Linked DNA regions of Homo sapiens: region 1 is linked to region 2. The links come from fine-mapping of genetic effects on gene expression. A gene starts in region 2. The other region holds a variant in brackets. All regions are shown on one strand. Distances are between the middles of the regions. Region 1 overlaps COG6 (component of oligomeric golgi complex 6). Region 2 holds the start of COG6 (component of oligomeric golgi complex 6).

What was found. PIP is the estimated chance that this variant, and not a neighbour inherited with it, causes the effect.
Region 1: its variant is fine-mapped to the expression of COG6 in prefrontal cortex (CommonMind, PIP 0.95).

The regions. Positions count from the first base shown.
Region 1 is chr13:39,702,251-39,710,250 of GRCh38, forward strand. The region is part of intron 13 of COG6 (component of oligomeric golgi complex 6); the gene reads left to right. Among named protein-coding and RNA genes, the nearest start is that of MIR4305, 42 kb to the left of the region's middle. The variant T/A (reference allele first, on the strand shown) is at 4,423.
Region 2 is chr13:39,646,443-39,658,744 of GRCh38, forward strand. COG6 (component of oligomeric golgi complex 6) reads left to right here and starts at 9,220. Exons shown (of 19, transcript NM_020751.3): 1 at 9,220-9,437. The coding sequence starts at 9,285. RefSeq lists a silencer at 9,484-9,533.

The DNA.
Region 1 (8,000 bases), 54 kb after region 2:
GAGGAACAGATAATTCTCCAGAACATGAAAAAATATGGAAAGCTTCCCAGTTTGTTTTAGGTAGTATAACACCGACATAAAACCTTTTAAAGATAGTCAGTAGTGGAAACCATAGATTAGTCACTTTTTAAGTTTTAAAACTTCAAAATTCAGCATTTATATATTAAAACCAAGAATGGTTTATTACATGAATATAAGAATGTTTCAGTGTTAGGAAATATACTAAATGAGTATATAAAATAAATTTTATATTCTCATATTTGATCACATTGGGGAAAATCTTAATATTAAAACAAGTCATTGATGAATACTTCCTTAACCATATAAAGAGAGATAAAACTAACAGCCAACATCATAATTAATATTGACACACTAGTGGTTCTTCTATTTAAGTGAAGAACAAGAATGCTTGCCAATACTTTTAAATAATAACCACGGTAGAAAGATGAGATAAAGAAATGAATTGTAAATATTTTAAAGGAGGAGACATTAGATTATTTATGGATGTTATGATAGTCTATTTTGAAGACCTAGGAGAATCAACTAAAAAGCTATACAACCAGAAAATGAATTCTAGTGAAGTCGTTGGTGAAAAGATCAATATACAAATGTAATTAATTTTCTTATATACCAGCTCATGAGGTGCTCAATAAATACTGGTAACATGAATGGTTCAGTTCATTTTCTGCTGGCCTATATTCCATCACTATCTTGCCATTAGCTTTAAATCTCTTGCACCCTTGCCATTTTACCACATTCACTTTGCAAAACCACCTTGAGTTAATTCAATTTTTCAATTTTTCCTGAGCTCTGCTAAAGAAAATTACATCATACAGACAGGAATCACTAAAAATTGTCTCCAACATCAGGAAAGCCCCCCAGGAGGTCCAGCAAATACTGATTGTCCTTTGGCAGCCACTCACATTTACCTCACTTATTTTCACCCATTTCCTCAAATCTACCATACTACCTCCTACTGAAAAAGTGCCAACTCTTGCTAAAACTGGATAATGGACATTAAAAAAAAATCTTTACCAACATGACGAGCAAAAGCGACATTTTGTTGTTTTTCTCATTTGGATTTCTGTGATTCTAGTGAGAATGAACATTTTAAGATATGTTTTTGGCTGTTTGTGAATTGCTTGTTCAAGTCCTTTGCCATTTTCCTATTGGGTTGTCTTGTTCATTTCTGATATTCTTTATGCATTAAGAATATTAACTCCATCATATATATTACAGACATTTTCTCCACGTTATCATTTGCCTTTAAAATTTGCCTGTAGTATTTTCTGACACATCAACTTTTAATTTTTTTATAGTTCAATAGAACTTTTTTTATAGTTTTTTTCCCTTGGGAGCATTCCATGCTTGAAAGTATTCCCACAAGAAAAAACATTTAGAATTTAATATATAATAAAGATAGCATCTATTAGTGGGGAAATGATAGATTGTTTAATACATTTATTTAGATGTATTTTCTTAGGTGTTTCTATGTTTTCACTTTATTTATTTTTTTAAGCAACAGGGTCTTACTGTTGTTGCCCAGGATCGTAGCTCACTGCAGCCTTGAAGCTCAAGCCATCCTTCTGCCTCAGCCTTCCAAGTAGCTGGGACTATAGGTGCATGCCACCATGCCCAGCTAATTTAAATTTTTTTTTTTTTCTGTAGAGACATGGTCTCACTATGTTGCCCAGGCTTGTCTCAAACTACTGGCCTCAGGTGATCCTCCTGCCTCAGCCTCCCAAAGTGCAGGAATTACAGGTGTGAGCCATCACACCTGGCCCTAGCCCTGGTTTCACTTTTGCAACAAATTTTTAATCTACTGAAGTTTATTATTGTTCAGACTGAAAACTTAGTATCTTATTCTTTCCCAAGTGGTTATCCATTTATTTTATTTTATTCCCCTAATAGTAAGTTTCTATATATTTTATTAGTCATGTAAAAGTTAAAATGAAAGTTGCAACAAAACAGGAAAACATACAGTTGACTCCTGAACAACATGGGAGTTATGATGCTGACCCCTGTGAAGTTGAAAAAATCTGCGTGTGACTTTCGACTCTCAAAATCTAACTGCTAATTAGCTATTGACTGGATGCCTTGCTAATAACATAAGCAGTCAACTCATTTTTTGTTGTATGTATTATACACTGTATTCTTACAATAAAGTAAGCTAGTGAAAGGAAAATGTTATTAAGAAAATCATAAGGGAGAGAAAATATATCTACTATTCATTAAATGGAAGTGAATCATCATAAAGGTCTTTATCCTCATTGTCTTCACATTGAGTAGGCTGAGGAGGAGGAAGAAGAGAGACTGGTCTTGCTGTCTCAGAGAGTAGCAGAGGGAGAAGACAATCTATGTAAATGTGGACCTTTGTGGTTTAAACATGTGTTGTTTAAGGGTCATCTGTAATGGATAGTAAAAGGCAACTGAAGGATGACATCTTCCAATTAAAACTTTGAACAGAATAGGATGAAAATGAGGAAAGAAAGTAATTGTAATCTGAATTTATTAATTACCAATCAATATTGCAGCTTATATGAGTTTATAGCAGTGAATGGGCTCTGATCATTATTGTTGTTGTTTTTGTTGTCATTATTACTAATTGAACCCTGGATGTTTTTCTCAGATATGAACTGGGCCATATTTAGAGTTATTTTTACATTAGATTGCGACCGTGTTATGATTCTCTTTACAACTCATATGTTGCTTGTATCTACAACCATTTCAGGTTTTTTGCAAGAATATCTTCCTTTCATCAAATTTTAATGTTCCATAATTTTATATTAGTTATATCTTTTACTTATTCTGCTTCTTGTAAATGATTTCACTTCCTCTAAAAACACTGTAGCTTTATGAAGAAAACAATATTTATTGTAGCATGTTCTTCATTAGCAAAGCACCCAAGTGGAAATTTTTGTTAATAGAATTTTAAGTGAATAGTATAATTGTTGGAAAGAATAGCTTTTAAAATAAAGGTATAGCCAGAGAGGAATTTTTAAAAATATGATTGCTTTTGTGCTTTTAAAAAGACATACTTGGGAGCTAATTCTTTATCTAGCGTGAGAAAAAGGAAATTCAAGGACATAATTTTATTGAAAGATGTACCTTTTCCCTAACAAAGCAGTTTGAAGCACTTGAGTATTCAAGTAGGCATACTCCCTTCCTTATCAAGCTCTCCTGAAATATTCATAACTGCAAATCTAGTGAAGTTTAAAGAGAATATGCATCTATACTGCAAAAGACACAATGTTGTGTCAATTTAGGCTAGACTGACATTTTCTAAAATTATTTCTCACTATAGTAATAGTGCAGTTCTAATTGCAAGGATATAGCCTGTCTTAAATGAAACCCATATCAAGTTAATAGTAGTCAGGATTGATTTGCCCAGTCCTCTGGAGAAAAAAAAACAAACCCCAAATGATTCTTTAAATAAATTGTCATTTAAATTCTAGGATATGGTTACTGCTTTGAATCTCTTTTTACTACTCATAGCATAGTATGTGGATTAGCAGCTTGGGCATCATATGGGAACTTACTAGACATGCAGATATCTCAGGTCCTGCTCCAGACCTACTGAATTGAATTATGCATTTTAATAAGATTCCCAGGAGGTTCATGTGCTCATTATAGTTTGAGAGGTGCTGTTCTGGTTGAATAGTTTGAGTTTTACATTATTCCTTACAGATGATTCTGCCAGGAAAAACAAACAGAAAACCAAATTTTTTTTATCTGAAATGCTTTAATATTTAAAAAAATAAAAGTGTGTAAAATAAGTTGTAATTTGAAATTATTTCAAACATGTTAGTTTGCAGTCCTAAATTTATCTTGGACAATTTTATTGACTTAAAAACTTAAATTCCACATATTGTCAATTACTAGAATGTATGTATTTAGAGCAAAAGGAATGTATATATTTATATATATGTATATACACACACACTTCTTTTATATATATACTCCTTTATATATATATATACTCCTTTATATATATATATACTCCTTTATATATATATATATATATATATTTAAATATATATAGAGAGAGAATGAGGAAATTAGTTTAAAAATATGAGAACTTTGTGTTTGGTTGGCTAGTCTTTATTTTTTGAAAGCAAATGGGCGAAGGGCCTTCTAAGAAGCTACACAACAGAAAATTATAGGACCTTAAATGGAAGATAGCTGAAAGAATAAAACTAAAGTTGGTAGTGGGATGAAGTTGTAGGAACAGCTTTTGGAATTTTTATGGTGCAACCTTTTTATTTTTCTCTAGTAAAAGTCAGAGCACCTAAACTACAGAAGGGATAAAAAGTAAATAGTCACAAGAACAATGAGGACTTTTGTGTATAGCTCTACACATTTAAAAAAAGAGAGGTTCTAATATATGGAATATGAAGTTTTCAATAGCTTAAATGCTTTTTT[T/A]AAAAAAATTATTGATTGATTAATTGATTGGGTCAGAGTCTGTCTCTGTCGTCCAGGCTGGAGTTCAGTGGTGTGATCTCGGCTCACTGCAACCTCCTCCTCCTGGGTTCAAGCGATTCTCCTGCCTCAGCCTCCCGAGTAGCTGGGGTTACAGGCATCCGCCACCATCTCCAACTAATTTTTGTATTTTTAGTAGAGACAGGGTTTCACCATGTTGGCCAGACTGGCCTTGATTTCCTGGTCTCAAGCAATCCACCCACCTCAGCCTCCCAAAGTGCTGATATTACAGGCATGAGCCACCATGCCTGGCCTTTAAATGCTTTTAAATGTGAAATTTTTCTGTATACTTCAACTTTGTCACTTAGAAAATATTCAAATTTTGAAATAAGTATTTAATAATAATGACTTGATGTTTAGTATGTACAATAATATAAAGAAGAAGAAGAACAAATGAGCTCACTTTTTTTTTTTTTTGAGACAGAGTCTCGCTCTGTCACCAGGCTGGAGTGTAATGCACAATCTCTCTGCTCACTGCAGCTTCTGCCTCCCGGGTTCAAGTGATTCTCCTGCCTCAGCCTCCTGAGTAGCTGGGACTACAGGCATGCACCACCACACCCAGCTAATTTTTGTATTTTTAGTAGAGACGGGGTTTCACCATGTTGGCCAGGATGGTCTCTATCTCTTGACCTCATGATCCGCCCGCCTCAGCCTTCCAAAGTGCTGGGATTACAGGCATGAGCCACTGCACCCAGCCAAGCTTTATTTTTAACTGCAGATATAGTACCCAAGTCTAAAGTATACAGTTAGTTGAATGTTTGTATTTGCATATGCTCATTAGCTATCACCCAGATAAGATATAAAACATTTCTAGCCCTTCAGAAGGCATCCTCTTTCCCCTTCCCAGTCAATATCTAACCCCGGTGTAAACTGCTGTCTGACTACTGTCTCTTGTTTTGCCTGCTATTAACTTCATGTAAATAGATTCATACAGTGTATACTTTTTTGGCCCTGACTTAACATATCTGTAAGATTCATATATTTTGCATGTTCAGTAGTTCATTTTTTAATTGTTGTGTAGTAATTTCATTATATATATTCACCACAATTTACTCATTCTGTTACTGATGGACATTTGGGATGTTTCTAGTTCTTGGATATTGTAAATAAAGCTATTATTAATAGTCTTATACATGTGTTGGTGGACATAAGTTTTTATTTCTCTTGTATGTATGCCCAGAAATGGAATATCTGGATTATAAGATTGATTAGCTTTACTAGATATTGCTAAGTATTTTTCCAAAGTAATTGTCCTAGATCACTTCACCAGAAATGTGGGAGTTTCAGTTGTTCCACATTCTCTCCAGTACGTGATGTTGTTAGTCTTTTTAATTTTAGGCATTGTAGAAAGTGTGTGGTGGTATTTCATTTGCTTGTAGTTTGCATTTTTCTCAAGATTAATGGTGATGAACAATTTTTCATGTTTATTGGCTGCTGGATGTACTTTCTTTTGAAGTTGTCTTTTAAAGACTGTTGCAGAGAGTCCTTACTGGGTTGTTACCTTTTTCTTATTGACTTATAAGAGTTTTCAAACATGTGTTTGGATACAAGTCCTTTATGGAATAATAAGCATCACAGATATTTTCTATCACTTTTTGAACTGTCTTTTCACTCTCTTAGTCATGTATTAGATTAACAGAAATTCTCAATTTTTAATTCAGTCTTGTATAACAAGCTTTTATTTCATGATTAGTTCCTTTTGTGTCCTGTTTAAGAAATCTTTGGCTATCTCAAGGTCATGAGGACATTCTTCTGTATTTTTCTCTAAGAAGCTTGATTATTTTAGCTTCCACATTTAGGCCTTCAATCCATCTCAAATTTTTGAGTATGGTATGAAGGTAGGGGTCAAGTTTAATTTGTGTGTGTGTGTGTTGTTTAAATTACTTTATTTTCCTTGCTTTCAATTTTTCTTGCCTTTGGCCTTGATCCGTGTCGTAATGTCTGGTAAAATATAACAATACCTAATACCATGTTCTCATAGTAGGTCTTCAACAGATGTTTGATAGATTGAAAAACTAGAAGAGCCTTAGAAGCTAATCTTCTCAGTCATCTTTGTCCTTAGCTACATATGTATTTCTTAGGTTACCTGAGACTTTTATGTTTTTTTCCAGTTAAGTTGATATTTAATAATTGGTTGTCTTAGTACCAGTAGTGTAGTTGCAGGTGGTTTTTGTGCTGCGATGCAGGTATAGCCTTTCTTAAATTAAAGATTCAGTCTGAGTTTGTTGGGGATACTTATCTCGGGTGAGCAATTGATGGGGCTCCGCATTAGAAAGGCAATATATGGCTCAAGGAGAAATCCTGGGCTTTGGAGTCTGATAGAGCTGTACTCAAATTCTAACTTTTCCAATCATTATGACTTTCAGTAAGTTGTCACTATGTAATTGAGTTTTTACTAAATGTAAAACAAAGAATTACGGCACAGTCAACGTAGATTAACCTGCCCTAGGTCACATAGTCACTAAGGGTGAATATATATCCAGGTCTGCCTAATTGCTAAGCCTGTGCCTACTTCCTGGTGGATGTTCCATACATAATAGTTCCTTTTAACATTTTCCTTTTATTTATTTTTAATTTTTATAAATTTATGAGATACTAATGCAGTCATGTTACATTTATATATTATGTAATGGTGAAGTCTGGGCTTTTAGTGTAATCATCACCTGAGTACTGTATATTGCACCCAGTAGGTAATTTCTCATCCCCCATTCCCCTCCCACCCTCCCAACCTGTCTGAGTCTCCATTGTCTATTATTCTACTCTGTGTCCATGTGTACACATTATTTAGCTCCCACTTATAAGAACATGCAATATTTGACTTTGTTTATTTCACCTAAGATTATGGCCTGAAGTTCCACTCATGTTGTTGCAAAAGAAATGATTTCATTCTTTTTCATGGCTGAATAGTATTCCATGGTGTGAGTGTATGTGTATATATATGTGTGTGTGTATATGTGTGGTGTGTGTGTATATGTGATATGTAACACATATATGTGTGTGTCCACAAATATATATGTGTTATATGTACACACACACCACATTTTCTTTATCCAGTCATCTGTTGATGGGCACTTAGGTTGATTCCGTATCTTCGCTATTGTGCATATTTTCATGTGGATATACACTTGATCCAGCACCATTTATTGTAAAGGCCATCCATTCCCACTGCAGTGAAGTGGAAATGGTCATAAATTACATGACCATGTATGTGGATTTGTTTGGTAATTGTGTATTCCATTGATTTATTTTAGATTATTTATTTATTCCATTGATTTCATTTTATTTAGAATCAACTTGTGCATTTTTAAAATAAAAAAGCTTTCTGAGGCTTTGATTAAATCTATAGATCAGTTGAGGAGAAATTAATATCTTAATGATACCAAGATTTCCAATTTATGAATATCATATATCTCTCCATTTACTTAGGTCTTTAGTTTCTCTCACTAACCTTTCATAGTGTTCAGGCCTTGCACATCTTTGGTTAGATTTATTCCCAGATATTGAGTGGTTTTTTTGATGCT
Region 2 (12,302 bases):
AGGTTGATTGTATAGTTTCACTGATGGTGGTGTGACATAGCTCAGATATATGTGGCAGTTGTGTGTTATTTTCCAAATTAGATAATTCAGCTTCTATACATCTTATTTCATAACCCAGGCATTGTTATAGCATTTTGCAGACATTGCAGTGTGGGTGGAGCAATCTGTCCATCTCACAATGGGTCCATGATGAGTTGTTTTGTGCAGTGATTTTGATGATGGTTATGTGTGCCTAGTTTCCTTATGTTTTTGCCTCTCCTACAAGCTTGGTTCTTCCTCCTTCTTGTTGATTCTAAGACCTACCCACTATTCTTTCAATAAATACATTTCTATTTAAATCGTCTTCAGTCTGCTCCTAACAATTGCAATTAAGAACCCTAACTTACAAAGCCATAAAACTTCATTTCAATCCTTTTCATTGAGTAAGCCTTTAGCCTACTAAGGCACATATATTGTGCCTGATGCTGTGCTGGAAACTGGGTAGACAAAGATGAGTGACATAGTCCTTATCATACAGGTACTTCGAGTCTAGTGGGGGAACAACAAATATAAAAAGAAATTTTAAAAATAATGATATGATGTGGAATTTGCATGAGGGACCAATTAATTCTGCTCAAGGAGAGGTAGGGTGCTTCATGAAGGTACAAAGAATTGTTTGAGTGGGGCCTGAAGGACAAATTGGATATCACTAGTTTTATAAGAGAAGGCTTTCCTGAAAGAGTGGTGCCAAAATCTGAATGTTTGTGTCCCTGCAAAACTCATAAGTTGAAATTCTAATTCCCAAGTTAGAATTAGGAGGCTTGGCCTTTGGGAGGTGATTAGGCCATGAGGGTGGAGCTCTCATGATAGGAATTCGTGTCCTTGCAAAAGAGGCCTCAAAGAACTCACTAGCCACTTCCTCCTACCTGTGAAATTACAGTGAGAAGGAGCCATTTATGAACAAGGAAGCGGGCCCTCACTTGACTCCGAATATGCCAGTGCCTGGATCTTGGACTTCCCAGCCTCCACAACTGTGAAAAATAAATTTCTGTTGTTTAAAAGCTCTCCAGTTTACGTATTTTGTTATAGTAGCCCAAATGGACTAACACAAGTGGGTTGTAGGAGCCAACAAAAGGAGATGAAAGTTTGTGATGCACTTGTAGCCTAGCAAGTAGAGTATGGCCAGAATGTTGCAATCATGAAGCAAGTGCCTAGAAATAAGGCCAGAGTGATAACATGAAATCTGATGATGAGATCTGATTATGAATGCCTGTGTATACCATAATAAAACATTCATTTATTTGATAACTACCATCACAGTTTTTATTTTATTTCATTTTATTACTTTTTTACTTTTCTTTTTTCTTTATTTTTGTTTTTTTTAAAGATCCCCACTAGATACCTGTTTCACAAACCATCACGATTTTTAAAGCAAAAAAATGACAGGATCAAATCTGTGTTTTAGAAAAATAATGCTGGTGTCACTGTGAAGGCAGTAAGAACCTGGTCAAGGCAACACCAACATAAAACACATTTGAACGTTTAGCTGCAAAAATTTTTGCTTACATTCCAAGGGAGAGGTGTACACAGCTCAAAACCGAGAAAGCAGTAATGCAACCCTTTATTTATTTTTCATTTATTATTATTATTTTTTAAAAAGAGAGTCTCGCTCTGTTGCTCAGGCTGGAGTGCAGTGGCATGATATTGGCTCTCTGCGACCTCTGCCTCTCCGGTTCAAGAGAATGTCCTGCCTTAGCCTCTGGAGTAGCTGGGAATACAGGTGCACACCACCATGCCTAGCTAATTTTTGTATTTTTAGTAGAGACAGGGTTTCGCTAAGTTGGCCAGGCTGGTCTCGAACTCCTGACCTCAAGCGATCTGCCCACCTCGGCCTCCCAAGATGTTGGAATAATAAGCATTAGCCACCACGCCTGGCTGAACCCTTTAGCTAAACGCCAACTTAGGTGGTAGCTGGCTGTGTTATCTGAGTTAGCCATATATCCTTGGAAAGGTTTCTTTAGTCTTGGATTACTCATCAAGAGGAGTACTAATTACATGATAATGTAATGATCCTTATGTTTCAGGGTAGCTGTGAAGATAAAAATAGTGTATAATAAATTCTAGCACAGAGCCTGATTTTCAATAAACATAGTTGCTAAATAACGGGAGCTACTATTATCAACACAATGAAAGATGTCGAAGGCTGAAAATTCTATGACTCACTAGACATAGCCGTAATAAATGCCATATTATATTTTGATGAAGCCACAGTAACCAATACAAAGTGACTTCCTCTTATTTCAGAAGCCAAAGGGCAAGAAAGCTTAACCATCTAAAGCAATGGTGTCCAATCTTTTGGCTTCCCTGGACCACACATAAAATACACTAACACTAATGATAGCTGAAGCTCTAAAAAAATTGCAAAAAATCCATAATGTTTTCAGTGAGTTTACAAATTTGTGTTGGGCAGAATTCAAAGTTGTCCTGGGCCATATCCATGCAGTCTGTGGGCCTCAGGTTGGACGAGCTTGATCTAAAGGAGAGGAATAGGAACTTGGAGAGGCCCTCCTTTCAACCTTTTCTTTTTTTTCTTTCTTTTCTTTGTTTTTTTTTTTTTGTTTGTTTGTTTTTAGATGGAGTCTTGCTCTGTCGCCCAGGCTGGAGTGCAGTGGTGTAATCTCGGCTCACTGCAACCTCCGCCTCCCAGGTTCAAGCAATTCTCCTGCCTCAGCCTCCCTGGTGACTGAGATTACAGGTGCGCACCACCATGTCTGGCTAATTTTTGTATTTTTAGTAGAGACAGGGTTTTACCATGTTGGCCTCGAACTCTTGACCTCAGGTGATCTGCCCACCTTGGCCTCCCAAAGTGCTGGAGTTACAAGGGTGAGCCACCACATCTGGCCTCAATCATTTCTTAGAAGGTAAGAATCTCCACATTTCAGTCTACTGCATGGTTCTTCTGTCATTTTCTTTTAAATCCTTTGCTCTTTTACATGCGTGTATTTGTTCTCCTATTAAATTGAAATGTTTAGGTCAAAGCATATCTTTTAATTATTTTAATGTTCTACTACTTTATGGAGCTTACTATAAACAATTATCTTTCACATTTTCACTAAAAAACGTTACTTTCAAAAATATATGGATACATACACACACACGTATCTGATGAGGCACACCTGAAAATTTATTTTAACTCTTGACAAATATTGATTTTAAGCTCTTAACAATTTATAATTAACCTCATAAAAACATACTTAAGTAAGCATTTAAAACATAAAATAATTTCCCTGTTTTCATGCTACCACATATTATTTTAATTCATGAATTATCTCATTTACTTTTTTACAATTGTTAATTCAGAGAATTAGAAATAAACAAGAAAAGTGGGTCATGGTTACTCTACCTTAATAACCTCTGTTAATATATTTAGTAATACATGAATAAGACTAGACAATTTCAATCAGTTTAGAAAGGTACAAAATGGAAAATGGAAGCCTTCCTTCCACTGGAATGCCATCCTGAAAAAAAATCTAAATTTATATGTATCTCTCCATTTCGTGCACGTAAGTGATCTCATCATACATACATAATATAGCTTGCTTTTTCACAGAGTATATTGTGGAATTATTTCCATGTTAGCATTTAAATCTCCTTCATAGCAGATAACACTTGCATAGTATTCTGCTGAATGAATGAGTGCATGATAGTTTATTTGTTCAGTCCTGTATTGATAGACACTCTGGTTGTCTCTCTTTCCTCCTCCCTCCCTTAGTCTCTCCTTCCTTCCATCCTTTCTTTCTCTCTCTCTCTCTTTCTGCTTTTCTCCCTTCCTTCCTTCCTTTCTCTTTCTTTCTCTCTCTATCTCTATTTTTCTCTCTATTACAAACCATGGTAGATAAATATCTTTGTTCATATACTGTGGGAAGTTTTTGCATTATATCCATAGTAAATGCCTAACAGGAAGAGTGCCATGTTATGAGGACACTCAGATAGCCCTGTGGGAGGGACCATTTGGTGAGAAATTGAGCCTCATTTTAGTAAGTAGCATATGCCAGCCATGTGAGTGAGCCACCTCGAAGTGAATCCTCCAGCACCAATTAAGCTTTCAGATGACTGCAGTCCTAGGTAATATCTGATTGCAGCTTCATGAGAGACCCTGAGCCTAAACCGCCTAGCCAAGTCACTCTTGATTTCCTGACTGACAGAAGTTATGATTTTTTTTAATATACTAGTTTTGGGGAAATATGTTAAGCAATATCAGATAACTAAAATACTTACGGCTTGGAACAGTGGTTGTCAACCCCGGACAATTTTGCCCCTCAGGGACATTGGCAATGTCTGGAGACATTTTGATCGTTCCAACTGGGGAGGATGCTACTGGCATTTAGTAGGTAGAGGCCAGTAATGCTGCTAAACATCCTACAGTGAACAGAATAGTTCCCAACAACAACAAAATATGCAGCCCCAAATGTCAATGGTGCCAAAGTTAAGAAATCCTGAATCCTAGAATAACTTAAATAACATTGGAATCAATTTTTTTTTTTTAAAACATAAGGTCTCACTCTGTCGACCAGGCTGGTGTGCAGTGGCATGATCTCGGCTCACTGCAACCTCCGCCTCCCAGGCTCAAGCAATCCTCCCACCTCAACCTCCTGAGTAGCTGAGACTACAGGTGTGTGCGATACCACGCTTGGCGAAATTTTTGTATTTTTGAAGTGACAGGGTTTCTCCCTCTTGCCTAGGCTGGTCTCAAACTCCTGGGCTCAAGTTATCTGCCTGCCTCAGCCTCCAAAAGTACTAGGATTAGAGGTGTGAGCCACCATGCCCAGCCCAAATATTTTCTTTCTTTCCTTCTCCTTTTCTTTCCTTCTTCTTTTCTCTCCTGCTTTCTTTTCTTTTCTCCACACCCGCCTCCAGCCCTCCCTCTCTTTCTTTTTTCTTTTTTTTTGGTGACAGATTCTCACTCTGTTACCCAGGCTGGAGTGCAGTGGTGCAATCACGGCTCACTGCAGCCTCAACCTTCTGAGATCAAGTGATCCTCCCACTTCAGCCTCCCAAGTAGCTGGGATACAAACATGCACCACCACAACTGGCTAATTTTTAAAATTTTCTATAGAAGTGGGGTCTCTTGATGTTGCCCAGGCTAGTCTCGTATTCCTGGGCTCAAGTGATCCTCCTGCCTCTATCTCCCAAAGTGCTGGGATTACAGGTATAAACCACTGTGCCCAGCCTCTGTATCTTTTTCTTTTCTTCTTCTTTTTTTTTTTTTTTTTTTTTTTAAAGAAGGGGTCTTGCTCTACCATCCAGGCTGGAGTGCAGTGGTGCAATCTTGGCTCACTGCAACCTCTGCCTCCCAGGTTCAAGCGATTCTCCTGCCTCAGCCTCCTGAGTAGCTGGGATTACAGGCATGAGCCACCACACCCGGCTCCATATCTTTTTTAATTTTGGATTTTTAATCACCTTTACAGGCAGCGGTAATTGATGAAGTAAGTCCTGACCAACATAAAAACACATTTTTGCAATGAGGTGCTAAAGAGTCACACAACTTCTTTTGCAAGCTAGTTGAATTCCAAGATCCTGTCCTTTTTGGAGTTTTGGAAAACAATATGTGAAATAGGTTATTATTTTAATTCTAACACTTTTTCTATAGATCCTTCTGGATTATCTAGGGACACATTGCATCACCTATCAAAAAGTGTAAATTTTAAAAATTCTCTCTAATCTTTATGACTTTTTTCTTAGTTTATTATTCTGGTTTGAGCTTCTAGTGAAATATTGAATAGCAGTGTTAGTGGATAGTTTTTGTCTTATTCTTGATGTCAAGGAGAAAGTTTTAAATATTTCCTTAGGTGTGATGTTTGTCATAGGGTTTTTTTTTGTATATACTCTCAATCCAATTAAGGAAATCCCCTTTTATTCAAATTGCTAAGAGTTTACTTGTTTCTTTAATCATGAATGGATATTGGATTTTATCATCGGCTTTTTCTCAATCTATAGAAAAGCTCACATGGGAGAAAGAATAGTCCTTTTAGCAAATGGTGTGGGAGACAACTGAATATCCACATTTAAGACAATAAAACTGGATCCCTACCTAACATCCATACACAAAAATTAGCTCAAGGTACAAGATAGGCTTTAATATAAGTGCTGAAACTATAAAATTTTATTAGGCCTGTGCAAAAGTAATTGCGATTTTTGCCATTACTTTCAATGGCAAAACCTGCAATTACTTTTGTGCCAATGTAATAGAAGAAAACACAGGAATAAATTTTTGTGATCTAGGTTGGGTAATAATTTCTTGAATAAGGCACCAAAAGCACAAATAATAAAAAAGGAAATTGATAAGTTGTATCTCATCAAATTAAGATTAATTGTGCTTCAAAGGATGCCATTGAGAAAGTGAAAAGACAAGCAAAAGTAGGAAAAAATATTTTCCAATAAATTGTTAGGACTAGTATCCAGAATATATAAAGAATTCTTACAACTCAATATCACTAGTCACTAGGAAATGGAAAGCCAAATCTCAATGAGGTATCATATCACACTGAGTAGGATGGATAAGATAAAAAAGACAGACCATAATGAGTGTTAGTCAGGATGTGAAGAATACTGGAGCCCCTCATACAGTGCTGGTGGGAATGAAAAATGGGGCAGTCACTTCGGAAAACTATTTGACAGTTTCTCAAAACATTAAACATAGAGTTAACCATAAGAACAATCTACTCCTAGGTATCTTCCTAAGGAAAGTGAAAACATACATCCACACAAAAACTCTCACATGAAAATTCACAGAGACATTTTTCATAAAAGCCAAAAATTTGAAACTACCTAAATAGCCATCTGACGAATGAATAAAATATGGGAGATCCATACAATGGATTATTATTTGGCAATAATAGGGAATGAAACACTGATACAAGCTACAAAATAGATGAACCTTGAAAAATTATGCTAAGTGAAAGAAGTCAGGCATGAAATGTTACATATTGTATAATTCTGTTTATATGAAATGTCCAAACTGGCATATCTATAGAGACAGAGAGCAGATTTGTGGTTTCCTAGGGTGGTAGAGAGGGGAAAATGGGGAGTGCTAGTGGGTACAGTTTTCTTCTTAAAGTAATGAAAATGTCTTAAAATTAGATGATGGTGATATTTGCCAACTCTGTAAATGAACTAAAAGCTGTCATATTTTATACTTTTAATAGGTGAAGTTTATGGCCTGTAAATTATATCTAAATAAAGATTTTAAAAATTAATATAAATTTGTATTTTTTATTACTTAAACATTTTGTCTATTTATCTCCAATTTACTTTTTAAAATAAACAGCTTTATTTTTTTTTTTTCAATTTTAAGATAGGGCCTTGCTCCATCACCCAGGCTAGAGTAGAGGGCAGTGGCATGATTATGACTTACCGCAGGCTTGAGCTCAAGTGATACTCCCACCTCAACCTTCCAAGTAGCTGGGACCACAGGCATGCCACCACACTCGACTAGTTTTCGTATTTTTTTTTTTTTTTTTGTAGAGACAGGGTCTCGCTATGTTGCCCAGGCTGGTCTTTAACTCCTGAACTCGAGATCCCCCTGCCTAAGCCTCCCAAAGTGCTGGGAATACAGGTGTGAGCCACCATACCTGGCCTAAAAAACAGATTTGAGATGAAACTTGCATGCCATTCAATTCATTCATTTAAAGTGTACAGTTCAGTGTTTTTTAGTATATTTACAGAGTTGTGCAACCATCACCACAATTTAGCTTTAGAGTATTTTCATCTCCCCAAAAATTAACCTGTACCATGAACTGACACTCCCCATTCCCTCTTCCCAACACTCCTCTTCCCAGAACCACTCATCTACTTTCTATCTCTATTGATTTACCTATTTGGGAGATTTCACATAAAGAGGTCATACAATATGTGGTATTTCATGACCGCTCCTGACTTGGCATGTTATCATCGTCATTCCTTTTAATTGTACATATTTGCAAGCTCTACATTATATTATTGCTTTGTATATATGCAAATTCATTTGGATATATACACCTTAGGTAAACCTTTGATATTTTAATTTTGGTTACACTGAACTTAAATTTATCTGTGAAAGAGAAAAGACATCTTACAATATTGAGTCTTCCTGTTGAAGAGAACAATATATTTTTTCATTGATTTAAGTTTTATGTTCTCCCAGTAGCATTTTAAAGTTTTCTTCATCTAGGTTCTCTGTATTTTTTGTTGAATTCATACCTAGATATTGCTGCTTTTTGTATATTTTTTTCTTTTGGATAGTTGGGCCTTCTCTTCTTCATTAGAGTAGAGATGAGTGGTTTTGTCAGTGCTTTCTTTATGTGACCTCTGTAATAGGTAATTTTCCCTTAAGTCTGATATACAATATAACTATGTACATAGACATATATGAAACAAGGAAAATTTATGACAAGAGCCAAATAGTGTTTCTGACAAATAATTCACAGAAGCCCAGCGATTTTATTTTGATCCAAATTTTAAAAACTGAGAAAAGAAAGAAAAAAAGCAATGATGTTTGTTTTCCAGAGTTTCCCGGGAAGTTTTTTCAACTTGTTACATTTTTATCCATTACTTTACAGCTACATGGGCTCTGGTCCATTTGTGTCAGGGCCAAGTTCATCTTGTTTTGAGGCCTGTACACTTACACACTTTCTTCTGCCTGGGAATGATTTCTCCTCACATTCTGATTCTCCTTCAAATCTCAGTTTAAGTGTCAACTCCTCTCCAAACCTCCCTGAGTGAAGTGGGCCTTTCCCTCCATTTTCTTTCACTGTACTACTTCATCCCCTGAGCACTCATCACAACCTAATAACATCTATTAACAGCTTTGTCTGTTTCAGACACACAATGTAGATTCTCCAATGCCTACCAGAGTACCTGGCACATACTATGCCTTCAATAAATAATTTTCAAAAAAATGAATTCAGATAAGGCAAATGTAATTTAAACTTTCAGTTAACTTATATTGAATGTATATGCCAGGCACAAGTCATGGTGTATTTTACATACTACATTTGGTTGTCATCTAATTAGCTCTGAAGGTCGCAGATCCATAATTCCAAAGTCCTCTCTAATCCTATAAATTTTCTCCTTCTACCTGAGGGTCTTGTCCCGCCCCCCACATCTTCTCCGCCCCTCACGCTTCTGAGAGCCCAAGCAGGGTTACCCGGCGAAGACTTCCGGGGCCGATGCGCATGCGCGGCCGATTTGCACATGCGCAATACTCGCGCTGCCTCCGTGGTCCCTGCCTGGCTGAGGTGGCAGCAGGGGGCGGGACGCGCAGCGCTATGGCAGAGGGCAGCGGGGAAGTGGTCGCAGTGTCTGCGACCGGGGCTGCCAACGGCCTCAACAATGGGGCAGGCGGGACCTCGGCGACGACCTGCAACCCGCTGTCGCGCAAGCTGCATAAGATCCTGGAGACGCGGCTGGACAACGACAAGGTAACCGGGGCTGGCGGGGCCGGAGTCACAGGTTCCTGCGGGGCTGAGCCGGGCCAGGGGCGGCGTCTGTCAGGGACCCACCGCGGTCTCCCTCGTCCCGGCAGCAGAGGGACCGCGAGTGACCCCAGACCTGCGGGCTCCGCTGCTCTGCGGGCGCCGGGGGCGGTGAGAAGGGGGAGCCCCAGCAACCTCCGGAAAAGCGAAGGGGTTTCCTGGGTGTTCTCTCCACCTGAAAAGGTGCCTTCAAGGCTCTCTGGATGGGATTGGTGAACGGTGGTGCCTCGAGAAGTGTCCTCCAAACACCCCTGGAGGCGTTTGGCTGTGTGAGCTGGGAGAGTGGAGGAGAGCACAAGACTGGATATGAAACAGATGCAAAAGAGCAGATTCCAAGATAAGGTAGCGCAAATGGGGGTCGGGAGACCAAGAGAGCAGTGGTAGGGATAAGGGTGCATTTCCACGGACAAGTGACAACAATTGCAATAATTTGCAGCGCGAAAGAACTACCTTTGCCCGTGGCTGAAATGAACTCATATCTACTAGTTTTTGTTGAGCCAAGCGCTATGATTTGTGGGCTCAGGCTGTATTTCTTTAGAAGATAAACTGACAGCATGCTCTCACAAGTACCTCCTGAAACTTAAGTTGGACTTTACAGCTCCTCACATACCCAGCCATCTCTTCTGTCTCTGTGGGTCGCTAGGTAAATTGGTCATGACAGTGTAACATAAAGAAGAACATATGTCAAAGTTAGAGAGTTTTATAGGTGAATATGTAGGTAACTGAAAATAAGCTGTCGATAACAATTTGATTCCGATATGTAAAAAAATAACATTGCAATGTAATGAATAAGAAATTAGGGCTCTGGAGACTACCACTTATTAGATAGAACCACTAAATGTGTGCATCATGATTTGAGTAAGTCCCTTCACTAATCTCAGCTTCTGTTTAGGAATTAGGAATCCTGCTGTTAAGTTTCTCATGGTTGTTATTTGAGGACTCAGTGAGAGACTCCAGGTAAAGTCCTTTGCAAAGAGCCTGGCACTTACTCTTTCTTAACAAATATTAATTTTATCATAAAATTTATGAAGTGTTTAATGTGTCTCATATTGATATTTATTATATCATTTAAGACTGCTACTTGCTCTGATATAGATAACATGGCCTTCTTTTTTGGACAGAGTTTTGCTCTTTTTGCCCAAGCTGGAGTGCAATGGGCGCAGTCTCGGCTCACTGCAACCTCTGCCTCCCGGGTTCAAGCGATTCTCCTGCCTCAGCCTCCCAAGTAGCTGGGATTACAGGCATGTGCCACCACGCCTGGCTAATTTTGTATTTTTATTAGAGACGGGGTTTCTCCATGTTGGTCAGGCTGGTCTTGAACTCCTGACCTCAGGTGATCTGCCCGCCTCAGCCTCCCAAAGTGCTGGGATTACAAGGCGTGAACCACTGCGCCCGGCCACATAACCTTCTTTTTACCATGAGGAAAATAAAGCATGGAGAGAGTGCAGCTAGGTTGTCATATAACTAGTAACTGGTGGAACTGTAATTTGCATCTGAGTCTGTGATTTCATTCGTTCAACATTACTGATTACTTCTTTGAACCAGACCTTAGGACATTTCAAGGCTATAGTCTAAAGAAACTGCTTCACTTCATGGGTTTTTTTTTTCTGTACAGTAAGTATTTATAGTTGTAAACATATTTTTGCTTCCTCTGAAATATTAAATTGAATTTATATAAATAGTTTTACTGTTTTTGTCAATCCAGCCAATATTTCAAAATAACAAATAGAAACATGAAAGGGTAAGCCTACTAGAATATACAGTAGTGGAGGTGTAGAAATGTATATCTGCAGAATTTAGTGTACAATGGGGATGTCCTGGGCTTGGTTCTCTGCTCTCTCTTCCATTCATGTTTTCTCTGTAAGAAAAATCTTGTACTTTCATGGTTTTAAGTAGCAAAAAGCATGATTACTCTCAAATTTATAACTCTGTTTCTGACATCTACTGAGCTCCAGATTTGTAGAATTAGTTGTCTATACTATACCTCCAATTGGATACTGATTGACGTCATAGAACTTAACATGGGCGGAACTCTTGATTTTTCCCTAAACTGGTTCCGCTCTCACTAAAGAACGTCACCATTTACCCAGTCAAGCAAGAAGCATATGAATAATTTTGGATTCTTGTCACTTTTTTTTTTTTTTTTTTACATCTCCTGCAAATCCACAAACATATCTTATAGGTTCTACTTTGAAGAATATTTTTGGAATATCTTTTTTTTTTTTTTGAGACCAAGTCTCACTCTGTCGCCCAGGCTGGAGTCCAATGGAGAGAACATGGCCTTACTGTAGCCTTGATCTTGCTGGCTCAAGCGATCCTCCTGCCACAGCCTCCCAGGTAGCTGGGTCTACAGGCACATGCCACCATACCTGGCTAATTTTTTGATTTTTTTATAGAGATAGGGGTCTTACTATGTTATGCAGGCTGGTCTTGAACTGGCATCAAACTATCCTCCCAACTTGACCTCCCAAACTGCTGGGATTACAGGTGTAAGCCACCGTGCCATATTTTGGAATATCTCTTTTTCATTTGTACTACTGCCATCTTGGTCTAAGCCACTATCAAACCATACTGGGATTATTTTTGTTTTTTCTCTTACCTACCTCCTTTCTTGTACCCCTTTACCATTCATTTTCCTTACAAAGTTGGAATAAACTTTTATAAATATAAATCGTATTACATTACTCCCCTGCCTAAAATCGTAATAATTTCTCATAACTTCAGTCATAGTGGCCTTCCTTCTACCACTTTAGGGTCTTTGTACTCATTGTTTGCTCTGTCTGTGGAAGGCTTTGTCCCCATGACTGGCTG